Linked DNA regions of Homo sapiens. The protein of the gene in region 1 purifies or fractionates together with the protein of each later gene. This does not show direct contact. Each region holds a gene or a part of one and is shown on either strand. Other genes may lie near its edges.

Evidence for each region. Proteins that work in one complex are often made in the same cells at the same time.
Region 2: the proteins of ODAD4 (region 1) and GNPAT purify together in Homo sapiens (affinity purification with mass spectrometry; 2 studies listed by BioGRID and IntAct, with this or other methods). This does not show direct contact.
Region 3: the proteins of ODAD4 (region 1) and TTLL5 purify together in Homo sapiens (affinity purification with mass spectrometry; 2 studies listed by BioGRID and IntAct, with this or other methods). This does not show direct contact.

Annotation. Positions count from the first base shown.
Region 1 is NC_000017.11:41,946,376-41,952,028, forward strand, and holds part of ODAD4 (outer dynein arm-docking complex subunit 4), read left to right. Parts: intron 1-2,777; coding exon 2,778-2,974; intron 2,975-5,653. UniProt on the Homo sapiens protein: Component of the outer dynein arm-docking complex (ODA-DC) that mediates outer dynein arms (ODA) binding onto the doublet microtubule. Plays an essential role for the assembly of ODA-DC and for the docking of ODA in ciliary axoneme.
Region 2 is NC_000001.11:231,268,021-231,272,440, reverse strand, and holds part of GNPAT (dihydroxyacetone phosphate acyltransferase), read right to left. Parts: intron 1,684-4,420; coding exon 1,441-1,683; intron 130-1,440; coding exon 50-129; intron 1-49. UniProt on the Homo sapiens protein: Dihydroxyacetonephosphate acyltransferase catalyzing the first step in the biosynthesis of plasmalogens, a subset of phospholipids that differ from other glycerolipids by having an alkyl chain attached through a vinyl ether linkage at the sn-1 position of the glycerol backbone, and which unique physical properties have an impact on various aspects of cell signaling and membrane biology.
Region 3 is NC_000014.9:75,775,555-75,779,974, reverse strand, and holds part of TTLL5 (tubulin polyglutamylase TTLL5), read right to left. Parts: coding exon 4,345-4,420; intron 3,229-4,344; coding exon 3,125-3,228; intron 401-3,124; coding exon 273-400; intron 1-272. UniProt on the Homo sapiens protein: Polyglutamylase which modifies tubulin, generating polyglutamate side chains on the gamma-carboxyl group of specific glutamate residues within the C-terminal tail of tubulin.

The DNA of each region.
Region 1 (5,653 bases):
AGTGCAATGGCACAATCTCAGCTCACTGCAACCTCTGCCTCTAGGTTCAAGCAATTCTCCTGTCTCAGCTTCCCGAGTAGCTGGCACTACAGGCGCCCGCCACCACGCCCAGCTAATTTTTGTATTTTTAGTAAAGACGAGGTTTCACCATATTGGTCAGGCTGGTCTCAAACTCCTGACCTCAGGTGATTCACCCGCCATGGCGTCCCAAAGTGCTGGGATTACAGGCGTGAGCCACCGCACCCAGCTCAATTTATCACTATTTTATTTTATGTTATGTTATGTTGTTTTTATTTTTATTTTATGTTATTTTATTTTTGAGAAGGAGTCTCACTCTGTCACCCAGGCTGGAGTGCAGAGGCGTGATCTCAGCTCATGGCAACCTCCACCTTCCAGGTTCAAGCGATTCTCTCCTGCCTCAGCCTCCCAAGTAGCTGGGACTACAGTTGTGTGCCACCATGTCCGGCTAATTTTTCTTTTCTTTTTTTTTTTTGAGACGGAGTCTCGCTCTGTCCCCCACGCTGGAGTGCAGTGGCGTGATCTCGGCTCACTGCAAGCTCCACCTCCCGGGTTCACGCCATTCTCCCGCCTCAGCCTCCTGAGTAGTGGGGACTACAGGCGCCCGCCACCACGCCTGGCTAATTTTGTATTTTTAGTAGAGACGGGGTTTCCCCGCGTTGGTCAGGCTGGTCTCCAACTCCCGACCTCAGGTGATCCGCCCACCTCAGCCTCCCAAAGTGCTGGGATTACAGGCATGAGCCACTGTGCCCGGGTGTGCATTTTCCAAATTAATATTTTAATAATAAGCGCAGGCCAGGCCGGGCGCGGTGGCTCACGCCTGTAATCCCAGCACTTTGGGAGGCAGAGGCGAGCGGATCACAAGGTCAGGAGTTCGAGACCAGCCTGGCCAACATGGTGAAACACTGTCTCTACTAAAAAAAAAGAAAAAAAATACAAAAGTTAGCCAGGCATGGTGGCGTGCACCTGTAATCCCAGCTACACAGGAGGCTGAGGCAGGAGAATTGCTTGAACCCAGGAGGCGAAGGTTGAAGTGAGCCGAGATCACGCCACTGCACTCCAGCCTGGGTGACGCAGCAAGACTCTGTCTCAAAAAAATAAATAAATAAAAAATAAGCACAGGCCAGGTGTGGTGGCTCACGCCTGTAATCCCAGCACTTTGGGAGGCCGAGGTGGGCGGACCTCCTGAGGTCCGGAGTTCAGACCAGCCTGGCCAACGTGGGGAAACCCCGTCCCTATTAAAAATGCAAAATTAGCCAGGCGTGGTGGCACACTCCTGTAATCCCAGCTACTCAGGAGGCTGAGGCAAGAGAATCACTTGAATCTGGGAGGCGGAGGTTGCAGTGAGCTGAGATGGCGCCACTGCACTCTAGCCTGGGCAACAAGAGCGAAACTCTGTCTCAAAGAAAAAATAAAATAAAATAAAATAAAATAAAAATAAAATGGCTGGGTGCGGTGGCTCACGCCTGTAATCCCAGCACTTTGGGAGGCTGAGGCGGGTGATCGCCTGAGGTCGGGAGTTCAAGACCAGCCTGACCAACATGGAGAAACCCCGTTTCTACTAAAAATACAAAATTGGCCAGGTGTGGTGGCACATGCCTGTAATCCCAGCTACTTGGGAGGCTGAGGCAGGAGAATCACTTGAACCCGGGAGGTGGAGGTTGCAGTGAGCAGAGATCTTGCCATTGCACTCCAGACTGGGCAACAAGAGCAAAACTCCATCTCAAAAAAATAAATAAATAAAAATAAAAATAAAAAATATTAATTTGGAAAATACAGAAAAATAGAGAAAAGTATTCAGTCTCACCACCCAAAGACAAGTACTAATTCTAATCCTACTCTTTTATTGATACTGTGTTTTTTCATTCCAATCTTTTTTGTTTTGATTTTTCTCTCATATATTCTTAGTAATTTTTTTCTTTCTTTCCTTTTTTTTTTTTTGAGACAGGGTCTCACTTTGTCACCCAGGTGGGAGTGCAGTGGCACGATTATAGCTCACTGCAATTTCAACCTCTCAGGCTTAAGCGATCCCCCTACCTTAGCCTCCCAAGTAGCTGGGCTACAGGCGCACACCACTGTGCCTGGCTAAATTTTGTATTTTTTTGTAGAGATGGGGTTTTGCCATGTTGCCCAGGCTTGAACTCCTTGGCTCAAGCAATCCACCCACGTTGGCTTCCCAAAGGCTGGGGTTACAGGAATGAGCCACCATACTTGGTAATAATATTCTTAAACATTATTTATGTTGTGTGTATGTGTGTGTGTTTTGAGATGGAGTCTTGCTCTGTCACCCAGGCTGGAGTGCAGTGGCATAATCTTGGCTCACTGCAACCTCCACCTCCCGGGTTCAAGTGATTCTTCTGCCTCAGCCTCCCGAGTAGCTGGACTACAGGCGCCTGCCACCATGCCTGGCTAATTTTTGTATTTTTAGTAGACAGACAGGGTTTTGCCAGCTTGTCTAGGCTGATCTCGAACTCCTGACCTCAGGTGATCTGCCCACTTCAGCCTCCCAAAGCGCTAGAGACATGAGCCACCACGCCAGCCTCAACTGTTGTATTAAATTCCACATTCCATAGGTGTTACCAAAATAGTCTCAGTAGTCTTAAAATATCTTTATGCTTATGAACTCCACCCTTGTATCCAAAAGAACTGGTAGCTGGAGAACAAGTTTTATTCCGCCACCCAGCAGGAAGCCTTGGCATCCTGTGGCCCAGTGCATGGTTTTGGGGGATGAAGCTGACTCTGGTTCTTCATGTCCCCAGGTGGGAAGAAAAGATCCCTCTGGCAAAAACCACCCTGGAGAAGACCTGGCTGTTCCACGAGATCGGCCGCTGCTACTTGGAGCTGGACCAGGCCTGGCAGGCCCAGAATTATGGCGAGAAGTCCCAGCAGTGTGCCGAGGAGGAAGGGGACATTGAGTGGCAACTGAATGCCAGTGTTCTGGTGGCCCAGGCACAAGGTATGGGCTCAGAGATGACCACCCTACCTTTTCCAGCCTTCAGGCCCAGCTCACACCAGGGCTAGGAGTCTTGTGGACTGAGTTTACCATCCCAGTGTTTCTCCTTCCCAGATTATTCTGAGAGTGGGGATAAGCCACTCTATTTTGACCAGCACGTGGTAAGTGCTTTCATTAAGCAAAGCTTGGTTAGAGCTTGGGGTACCTTGAGCCTACCTCTGCCCTTGAGGAGGTCAGCTGCAGACCCACACAGCATCGTGTCATCCTCACAACAGTGCCCATGTATTGAGCCACTTTCCTTCTGCCTTGGTACTTTTTTTTTGTTTTGTTTCATTTTGTTTTTGAGACAGAGTTTCGCTTTTGTTGCCCAGGCTGGAGTGCAGTGGTGCGATCTCGGCTCATTGCAACCTCTGCCTCCCAGGTTCAAGTGATTCTTCTGCTTCAGGCTCCCAAGTAGCTGGGATTACAGGCGTCTGCCACCACACCTGGCTAATTTTTTGTGTTTTTAGTAGAGACAGGGTTTCACCATGTTGGCTAGGCTGGTCTCAAATTCCTGACCTCAGGTGATCCAAACGCCTCGGCCTCCCAAAGTGCTAGGATTACAGGCGTGAGCCACCATGCCCGGCCCTGTTTTGTTTTTTGAGACGAAGTCTCACTATGTTACCCAGGCTAGACTGCAGGGGCACGATCTCAGCTCACTGCAACCTTGGCCTCCCGGGTTCAAGCGATTCTCCTGCTTCAGCCTCCAGGGTAGCTGGGATTACAGGCGCGCACCACCACACCCGGCTAATTTTTGTATTTTTAGTAGAGACGGGGTTTCACCACGTTGGCCAGGCTGTTCTCGAACTCCTGACCTCAGGTGATCCACCCGCCTCAGCTTCCCAAAGTGCTGGGATTACAGGCATGAGCCACCACACCCAGCCAGCATTCTTGTATTGAATCATTATGATGTAGGTAGGCATTATCATCCTTATTTTAGAGATAGGGAAACTGAGGCACAGAGAGGTCCAGTAGACTCCCCAAGTCCTATGAGGGAAGCTTTTTTTTTTTTTTTGAGATGGAGACTCACTCTGTCACCCAGGCTGGAGTGCAGTGGCGCGATCTCAGCTCACTGCAACCTCTGCCTCATGGGTTCAAATGATTCCTGTGCCTCAGCTTCCTGAGTAGCTGGGATTACATGTGTGCACCATAATACCCAGCTATGTCTTTGTATTTTTAGAGATGCAGTTTCACTATGTTGGCTGGTTTCAAACTCCTGGCCTCAAGTGATCCACCCACCTCAGCCTACCAAAGTGCTGGGATTACAGGTGTGAGCCACTGCGCCTGGCCGAGGAAACCTTTTATTTTTTAATTTATTTTATTTCTTTATTTTTATTTTTTGAGATGGAGTCTTGCTGTGTCACCCAGGCTGGAGTGTAGTGACACAATCTCGGCTCACTGCAACCTCTGTCTCCTGGGTTCAAGCGATTCTGCTGTCTCAGCCTTCCGAGTAGCTGGGATTACAGGCGTGTGCCACCACTCCTGGCTAATTTTTTTGTATTTTTGTAGAGATGGGGTTTCACCATGTTGGTCAGGCTGGTCTCGAACTTCTGACCTCAAGTGATCTGCCCGCCTCTGCCTCCCAAAGTGCTGGGATTATAGGCATAAGCCACTGCACCCGGCCTCCAAGGGAACCTTTCAGAGTGATGGAAATGTTCTAAAATGGGATTGTGGTGGCCACTGTACAACTCTGTAAATTTTCTTCTTTTTTTTTTTTGAGATGGAGTCTTGCTCTGTCACCTAGACTGGAGTGCAGTGGCACAATCTTGGCTCACTGCAACCTCCGCCTCCCGTGTTCAAGCTATTCTCCTGCCTCAGTCTCCTGAGTAGCTGGGATTACAGGCGTGCGCCACCACACCTGGCTAATGTTTGTATTTTTAGTAGAGACGGGATTTCACCAAGTTGGTCAGGCTGGTCTTGAACTCTTGACCTCGTGATCTGCCTGCTTCAGCCTCCCAAAGTGCTGGGATTACAGTTGTGAGCCACTGTGCCCGGCCTCAACTCTGTAAATTTTCTCAAAATCATTGAACTTTATCCTTACAAGCCGGTGAACTTTATTTATTTATTTTTTTGAGAAGGCGTCTCACTCTGTTGCCCAGTCTGGAATGCAGTGGCGCGATCTTGGCTCACTGCAACCTCCGCCTCCCGGGGTCAAGTGGTTTTCCTGTCACATTGAGATAACTTTAAATTACATACTCAGTTAAAAATTAGGCTGGGGACAGGCACGGTGGCTCACGCATGTAATCCCAGCACTTTGGGAGGCCGAGGCAGGTGGATCACCTGAGGTCAGGAGTTTGGTACCAGCCTGACCAACAAGGTGAAACCTCGTCTCTACTAAAAATACAAAAATTAGCCAGGTGTGGTGGCACACGCCTGTAGTCCCAACTACTCGGGAGGCTGAGGCAGGAGAACTGCTTGAATCCAGGAGGCGGAGGTTGCAGTGAGCCCAGATTGCGCCACTGTGCTCCAGTCTGGGTGAAAGAACGAGACTCTGTCGCAAAAAAAAAAAAAAAAAAAAAAAAAAAAATTAGCCTGGCCATAGTGGCTAACACTTATAATCCTGGCACTTTGGGAAGCCAAGGTGGGAGGATCGGTTGAGCCCAGGAGTTTGATACCAGCCTGGGCAACATAGGGAGATCTCAT
Region 2 (4,420 bases), on another chromosome or scaffold:
CTAGAACTCACACTGCAAACATACTTGCTCTTTGTTGTAAGCACTTTACCTTTAGTGTGTTTCCTGGAAGGAAGATGAACTCATCTGCAAAAACATCACGTAGGAAGCGAAAGCAACTGTAGACATCCTCTGGAAATAAATGCATCATGTAAAATTACAACATTGCCCTTTAAACTTTAAGGGAGTACCAGGAAGTCCTTACTATCACAAAATGTATTTCAAAGGCATATTTTATTCATGTAACAGGGACAAGAATTAAGTCCCCTGAGGGAAGCTAAATTAAACCCAAATCTTACCCACAGAGCAAACTACGGTCTAGCATAGTTTGTTTTTTGTTTTTTGAGATGGAGTCTCGCTCTGTCACCCAGGCTGGAGTGCAATGGTGCAATCTTGGCTCACTGCAACCTCCGCCTCCTGGGGTCAAGCGATTCTCCAGCCTCAGCCTCCCAAGTAGCTGGGATTACAGGCACTCGCCGCCATGCCCAGCTAATTTTTGTATTTTAATAGAGACAGGGTTTCACCATGTTGGTCAGGCTGGACTCGAACTCCTGACATCGTGATCCTCCTACCACGGCCTACCAAAGTGCTGGGATTACAGGCGTGAGCCACTGCGCCCGGCCCTAGCATAGTTTTTAAATGATTGACTCTAACCTACAACCAGGCTTCTACTCAGCGAGACATCACAGTCCTTAGAGGCCAGGACGCTTCATTTTTCCCTACCCCATGGCTCCCTAGTAGGGAAGGAAAGGTACTGATTTCTTAATTTCCCTCTATATTCATATTTCCTGGTATCTTTATTATATCTGTAGCACTTTTCCTTAGAATCACTGTGGAGCTTTGAAAAGCCAAAACCAAAACCAAAACCAAACACCAATGGCTGGCCCATACCCCAGGTCAACTGAAGAAACTTTGGGGTGGGGCTCACTCCCCTAGTAATTCTAACATAGGGCCTTGACAGAACCCCCTGGCCTTGACTACAGGCTCCTGTGAACATGACGTGTACTGTACTCATTTTTATACTCCTGATACAATTAGAACAAGACCATGCATCTCGGGAGTACTCATCGACTGCTGACTGCTCATCTGCCCACCTGCCTTTGCTGGATCAGGGAGCTGGCACAGCCAAAACAGTGCCGCAGACCAGGAAGTGGAGAACTGTACTCAAATGCCAGATCCTTCTCTCAGTAATTATGCAACTTTCTAGGCCTCATTTTCCATATTTATAGAAGGAAAGGTTTAGATTATTTCCAGGTCCTCCCAATTCCAAAATTCGAAGCAGATGAACAAGTATTTGGGGAACAAAGCTAACTTTTTCTCAGTGATAGGCCTGCTCTTCACCGGCGTGAGGCTGAACATTACAAGGCTTCAAATGTGGCTCCCTAAATGGAATGGAATGGCCAGACCTCTTCTAAAAGTCAAGATTGCATTCCTGAAAATTACCTTTCCTGAACCCTGGTGTCATCTGCAATGCTACTGCTACTAAGGATGGGCGCACAAAAATGTTGAGCAGCTGGTTCCTATAAGCTGAGCACATGAGGAGAGTGATGTGCTGGAGCATAAGCCCATCGACCACTTCCGAGTCTCCGGAGTCCACTTTCAGAATCACCTGGTCTTTGACAAGGCTGGCAATGTTGGAATGCAGAAGAATGCTGGCCGGGACAACTTCTTCAGCAGGTTTATTATCTACACACAAAGACAATTCATTCAAACAAGATGGGTCACTGCAGGGAGTCTTAGGCCTAGCGTACGTTAACGTTATTAATGGTAACGTGACAGATGCTCATTTTCAAGTGACAGGTTTTACTGTCTACCAATTACGGTAATGATACCAAATCTGAAGAAAAATTTAAAAGTACTATTTCATAAATCAATTCTTTCTCTCTCTCTAAGGACATGTAACATACTTTCTTACCCCCAAAATTTGTCAGCCATTCTGAAAGGCACATCAGTTTCTACTCTGAAAATGAACACCACTTCTGTGTACTTCAGGAACCAAGGGAATCTAAAGTTTTCTAACAGCAAGTTACATAACTGGAAAGTCACATGCACGGGAATGTAAGAATACTAAGAAAAAGGCCCATGATTAGTGTATGAATACATTAAAACATACAACACACACACACATGCACACACACCCCTTGCTTAGACCCATACTAAAATGGTAAAAATATCACTTTGCAGTTTTCCCCAAATCAAAGATAACTAAAGGGGCAGCTCCATGGCAGTTGGTAGCTTATCACCTGACATATTGGCCTGCAGACAGCTGCCAGGCAGGTAGAATTACAGAAGCATAATGAAGAGATGGTGATATTTAACAAATATTCTCAGCACGGAAAATTATTCTGCAGTTAACCTGAGCCAAAGAGCTGGCTGGCAGTGGCACACTGCTCAAGTTGGGTGGCAAGTTCTGCTACTGCTTCAAGGCAGGGACAAGTGAGAGGTATGGCTTCCTCCTGGACTTGATCACATTCATTCTTGAACAACTTGCCTTGTCTCAGCTTGCTCAATTGAATAATATTTTATGTGAAATGATCATAAAAAGCTTGAGATATGAACATGCTTAGGAATGTGGGGTAATCTGCATAAAAAAAGAAAAAAGGAACAGAACTGTAGTGACACTGAACAGATACTCTTAGTTATGGATTAGTTATGGCATTTATCCCATCCTGAAAAAGCAAAACACTTTAGAAAAACAAGTACCTATGTTTTCATATGTTCCTGGGCCAAACAATGATGGGTTTGAGCCCTTTTAGCTATTTCTCATGACATCCAACACTTGCTACTTGTATCATAATTAACACATCCTTTGCCTCCTACCAGACCCAGCCCATCACAGCACTGAGAACAGGTGTCTGATTTGTCTCTCTCTTGGTGACTGGCATTTTTGTCAGTAAATCCTCCTCATCTCTTGGCTGTGCCCTGAGTGCCTCCACTGCTGCGGCTCAGGCATCTCAGGCATCCTGCATTTCTCATTGGGACAGAGCAGCCTCCTAACTTGTTTCTATACCTCCAGTCTTCTGATGGTGGATGGTGGGGAGGAGGCGGGGAGGTCCATCTTTATTTTCCATCTACCCACCACCCCATCTGGGCCAACACTTTAATATCACTGATGAATCTCTGGGGCCCAAGCCTCCCATCTTGCATTCCTCATCCCTGCCTTGGCGAGGATCCTCTCCTGGTCTTCCTGAAGGGTTCAAAAGTCGCTTCTGTGAAGTCTTCCTGAGTATGGTCCCTTTCCTCTGCAGCACTCTCAGGAACCCTCTGCAGCATGCATGTTGCTCCTTGTCTCTGTTCACTGAACCCTCACAACTTGTTTACACATTACCCACCCACCCTGCCCTCTGCAACCCAGGGGAACGTCCAGGATGGGGATGGCATCTTGTTCATCTTCATATCCCTGGTAGTACCCAGCACAGAGGAGGTATTCAGTATTGGGTTGATCAAAGAACAGTAGGTACTTGACTTCAAATAATTATCTGGTCTTTAAAAAAAAACGCATTTCCAACTGTAGCCTGTACAATTTTTTTTTTTTTTTGAGACGGAATCTCGCTCTATCACCCAGGCTGGAGTGCAGTGGCGCAATCTTGGCTCACTGCAATCTCTGCCTCCCAGGTTCAAGCAATTTTCCTGCCTCAGCCTCCCGAGTAGCTGGGATTACAGGTGCACGCCACCATGCCCGGCTAATTTTTGTGTTTTTAGTAGAGACGGAGTTTCACCATGTTGGTCAGGCTGGTCTGGAACTGCTGACCTCGTGATCCGCCCGCCTCAGCCTCCCAAAGTGCTGGGATTACAGGTGTGAGCCACCACGCCCGGCCTTTTTTTTTTTTTTTTGGAGATGGGGTCTCACTATGTTACTGAGGCTGGTCTCGAACTCCTGGGCTCAAGTGATCCTCCCACCTCAGCCTCCCAAGTAGCTGGGATTATAGGTGTGTACCACCATGCCTGGCTAGGATTCATGACTTTATTTTCCACCGTACTAGGTGCCAAGGAAATGGTATTCTAGTCCTCAAGATATTCAGAGTCTCGTAGTGGGAAATGACATGTAAACAATTATTCTCAAATAATCAACGTGCTGTGTTCACTGTGTCCTATAGTGATAAAAACAGATTTGGTGTCCTTTCTCTTTTTCTTTCTTTTTTGAGACAGAGTCTCGCTCTGTTGCCTAGCTGGAGTGCAGTGGCACAATCTCGGCTCACTGCAAGCTCCGCCTCCTGGGTTCATGCCATTCTCCTGCCTCAGCCTCCCGAGTAGCTGGGACTACAGGCGCCTACCACCACGCCTGGTTAATTTTTTCTATTTTTTAGTAGAGACGGGGTTTCACCGCGTTAGCCAGGATGGTCTCAATCTCCTGACCTCGTGATCCACCTGCCTTGGCCTCCCAAAGTGCTGGGATTACAGGTGTGAACCACCGCGCCCGGCC
Region 3 (4,420 bases), on another chromosome or scaffold:
AGATAAGTGTTCACTAAATATCAGCTATTATTAGCTTTTCTTGAAAATCTCTCTGCTGTTAATTATCTTGAAAAAAAATCAGACCATGCCCTTCTTCTGCTTTTAGGACAAAAAGTACTGTCCCCCATTCTCCACTCCCTCCCCAAGCTGCAAAGTCTCATTACCTTGGGGACTATTAGTGCTTAGCCAACACATTATTCCTCATTCTCCTTTGCATTTCTCATTTCTTCACTTGTTCTTCTTATTTTTCGTTCATTAACCAGTATACTTACCACCTTTTGCCCCACTATCAGAATAATTGTTGTTGTTCTTAGAAATTTTAGAGTGAGTCCCCAGGAAGACACTAGCAGACTTGTTCTTTTGGGTATAAAAAGTCAACACCTCCTCCAGTTCAGCCTCACTGAAATGAGGAGAAAAAGTATGGTCAGACAGGAAGCTATTCTGGAAAATCTTTCCACCAGATTTTATTATGAAAACAGAGCAAGCTGGAAAAGGGAAAAATGAAAAGCACAAGCTGAAAATTCCCTATTAATAGGTGGTTAAAATAAAATATAAATGAAAGCAATCTAAAAAATTTAAAGCATAAGGCTTTATTCATCCCGCAGTGAATTTTCTAGATCTACACTGTCTAATATGGTAGCGACTACTCAGTCATATGTGACTATTTAAATTCAAATTAAATTAAAGATTCTTTTCCGTAAACTAGCCACACTTCAAGTGTTCAGTAGTCACCCACAAAAAGTTCTATTGGACAGCCACATTCTAGAACAGGCGGCAAACAACTACACACTGTGGGCTAAACCTGACCAGCGACTTGTTTTTATGGCCCCCAGCCAAAAATTTTTTAAAATATTTTTAAAGAATATGCAAAACAACAATAACAAGACAACAACCACCACCACCACCACCCATATGTAGCCCACAGAGTCTGAAATGTTTATTATCTGGACCTTTACAGTTTGTTCAGCTCACTTCTAGATAATTGAAGTACCTTCACTTAAAGAGCCACTTGTCATTTTCATTGCCTATGTCAGAAATAAGGAAATCCACCAATAACCATAGAATTCCCTAACCATCTATATAATGCACGAGACTAAAGTATATCATCTCTAAATCACTTCAAATTACTGAAATTATATGCTCTTTATGAACAGCCACAAAATAGAAAGTATAAGGAAACAGATGAGAGGCTAGTGGATTCTTCTATTGAACATATCACACATGGACTTTAACATCTGTAGCAGCTTCTCAATGGCCTTTTTCTTTTCTTTTTCTTTTTCTTGAAGCTTGGCTACGTTCTAGGAAAGTGGCTATTAAGTGAAGAATGCCTGCATTATCACAGAGAACCTATATCCCATCTTCAGAAAACACACTCTAACCAGAACCTAGAAACCACCTTTATGAATCTCAGCGTAAACCCTAAAGTCTTCAAAGTAGCCAAATGCCACAAGATAAGTCTCTCAAGTGACTATCAAAGATCTACAGCTGAGGGTGCAAACCTTTGCCTGTCAGTGTGTTTTATTTGGCCCTTCACAGAATACTGAAAGGCAAAGGTTACGGTTGGTCAAAATACAAGCTGCTTTATATCTGTCTTATCCTTTGCCCACTTCATAATTTATGTTTTCCTGTCTGACTCCAGCAAGTATTTGAATTTACCAGCCCTGAAAAGTATCCATGTACTCAAACCAAACTTAATAAAAGAAGAACTGACGTCACCACATTATTTCCCAACAATCAACACCTAATCCCCAATCAGAAGTAATTATGTTCCAATGCATTTTATCTCCACATCTATATAATTAGTTAACAATATGTTATAATTCATTTTTAGTGTCCAGTTAGACTTGCTTGGGAAATAGTGTTCTTTTAAAGGCTGGGTTTTTTAAAATATATATTTTAGGGATTTTGAAGATCCTTAGGATAAACCTGAAAATTATCTTTTAGCTTTAAAAAGTAGAGCTATTTTCTGGACACAATCTGTTTTTTGTTTTTTTTTTTTAATCCTTTTCTGTTTTTATAACGTTGATGAGAGAAGCTGTTACTATACCTGTTTTATCAATCATATTACTTAAGACTCAAAAATGTCAACAAATAACACCATACAATTATGGACTCCTACAAAATGATATATTTGTTTGCTGTAAAGCGCATGATAGTGAGGTCTGAAAAGGGTATTAAACAAAGATTATATTATGCTGGTGATTGATAAGCTCCTACCCCTACCTCATTTAACTTCACCAATCAACATAGGGTAGATTTTCTACTGATTTTCTCCCTATTTGTGACTTTGACAGTTGAAGCCTAAGTAATGGGGCTTACTGTTTTTTTATCCTATTTTATTTTAATGGTTTTGCACATCTCTCTATTTAGAAAAAAATCCTCCAGTGTAAGTTTTACAAGATTTAAAATTAAGTGCCTTTGTTATCTCTTCCTTTGTAAGCCAACATAAATGGACAAAATGGCCTGGCTGACTTTTATCAAGATAGAGAGATGAATATCGAGATTTTCCATTTCTAAAGGCTAACCCTAAGCATGAAGAACTTGTTCTATTTTATATAAATTAGGTGTAACCCTCACAGAGTGGAGAAATTGCAAATTCCTCAGCCTACTCAATGTAGGCAAAATGTGGTCATTTCTACTCCATGAGTAGGTCAGGGACAAATTCAGACCCAGTAAATATGAGATGCCTCTAATTTCAACTTTCCAAAGAGCTCTCATGTGACTTCAAGAGATGTGCACTGTGAAGGCTGTCGAGAACTACAGCCCTGCTACCCAGCAGTAATGTTTTGATAACTGAAGCCATGAAAATAGCAACATAATTGGCTAAGATATGGAGAGGCCAAACCCATACAATCTTTTCTCCTTCTGAGAATGATTTCTTTTTTCATCATTTAGAGACAGGGTCTCACTATGTTGCCCAAGCTGGCCTCGAATTCCTGGGCTCAAGCAATCCTCCTGCCTCAGGCTCCCAAGTAACTAGAACTAAAGGGGTGTGCCACTGTGCCCGGCTTTAAGAGTGATTTCATTCACATCCATGTATCAGAAACAAAGGAATGCTGGGTACTCAATGAGCATTATGGAAGATGGAATAAGACAGCTTTTATCAATCAAGAATGTCTACTACCTTGCTTGTCTGATGAACTCCTGAAAGTTTTCCATATTCACCCCATCTTCCTCTTCTTCCTCAACTTTCTTCTTTGATTTCTTTTCAGCCATTTGTTCTGTTTCCTACCCAGTGCCCAAACCCCACAGAAAAACAACAAGATAAAACTGACTCCTAATAAATATGCACTTCATCATGTAGTTTCAATAGCCTTGAGTTAATCTGTCCTTATAGTAAAGACATTTAATTCTTGTATGTACTTTTGCCACCTATAAATTTGACATATTACTTTTGGCCATGATTTTGTAAAACATTTTGAAATTCCCAAGTAAAAGTTGCAGAATGAATGTAAATTTTAATCATGTTTTTACTTTCTACTTACACAGCCCATTGATTAAAGAGGTTTTTATAGTAGCTTAGTAATATCTATGATCACCCTTGTAGCTTTAACAATATGACAACAGAGACACAGTATTTTGTTCCAATTAGGAGAGGAAAGACAGATCTTGGAAGGTACTCTTATACCAGCTTCCATACTGAATAAATTCTTCACTTATATAAGACATAACAAAATTCTCAACAGATCTGGAGTAAATTGTGGCTATGAGTTTGGTGCACTGATATTCTACCAACAATTCCATGCAACTTTAGAAAAGCCATTTAAATTTCTATCAGCTTTTCCTTCTGCAAACTGACCAAACCTCCCAAACCCAAACACCCAAAATGATATTTTTAATGCATTCTGAGATCCCGGGATATAGAATGCTTTGCAAAATATTCTAATTAAATAGTATATTTCTTGGGCTTGACTGTAAAATTCTGTAATGTATAAAATGTTTTAAAGATGAAAGTATAACTCGTTCAAGAAAGAATATGTCATTACATTCAATCCACAGCTCAAATTTGTTCTCCAATGGTCAATTTGCCACTTTCTACAGGCACTAACAACCGTGCAGACTCACACAGCCTAGGATTCATCTCAGTGCTCAAAAGGAATATGCCTTTTGATAAGAATTAAGAATTAACTATGGCCACTGGGCCTTCAGAAGTAATAAATAGTTTTTCAGACCAGCTGAGTTAAGGTGTGGGGTCCTGCTTCCCCTAACAGTAATACATAAGGGATGGTGATGCCAGAGAACAGAAGAAGAGTGTCTCCATCCAGTTGGACAGAGGCTTCTATCTAGTCTGTTTCTGACAGTGTATGGCAATCCAAAGCACAAGACTAACAGAAAAAGACTTACCTTGTTGTATACAATGATAAAGTCACCCAGCTGGTGGGCCAGGATTCTTCTGCGTTCCAGAAGTGCCAATCGTCGA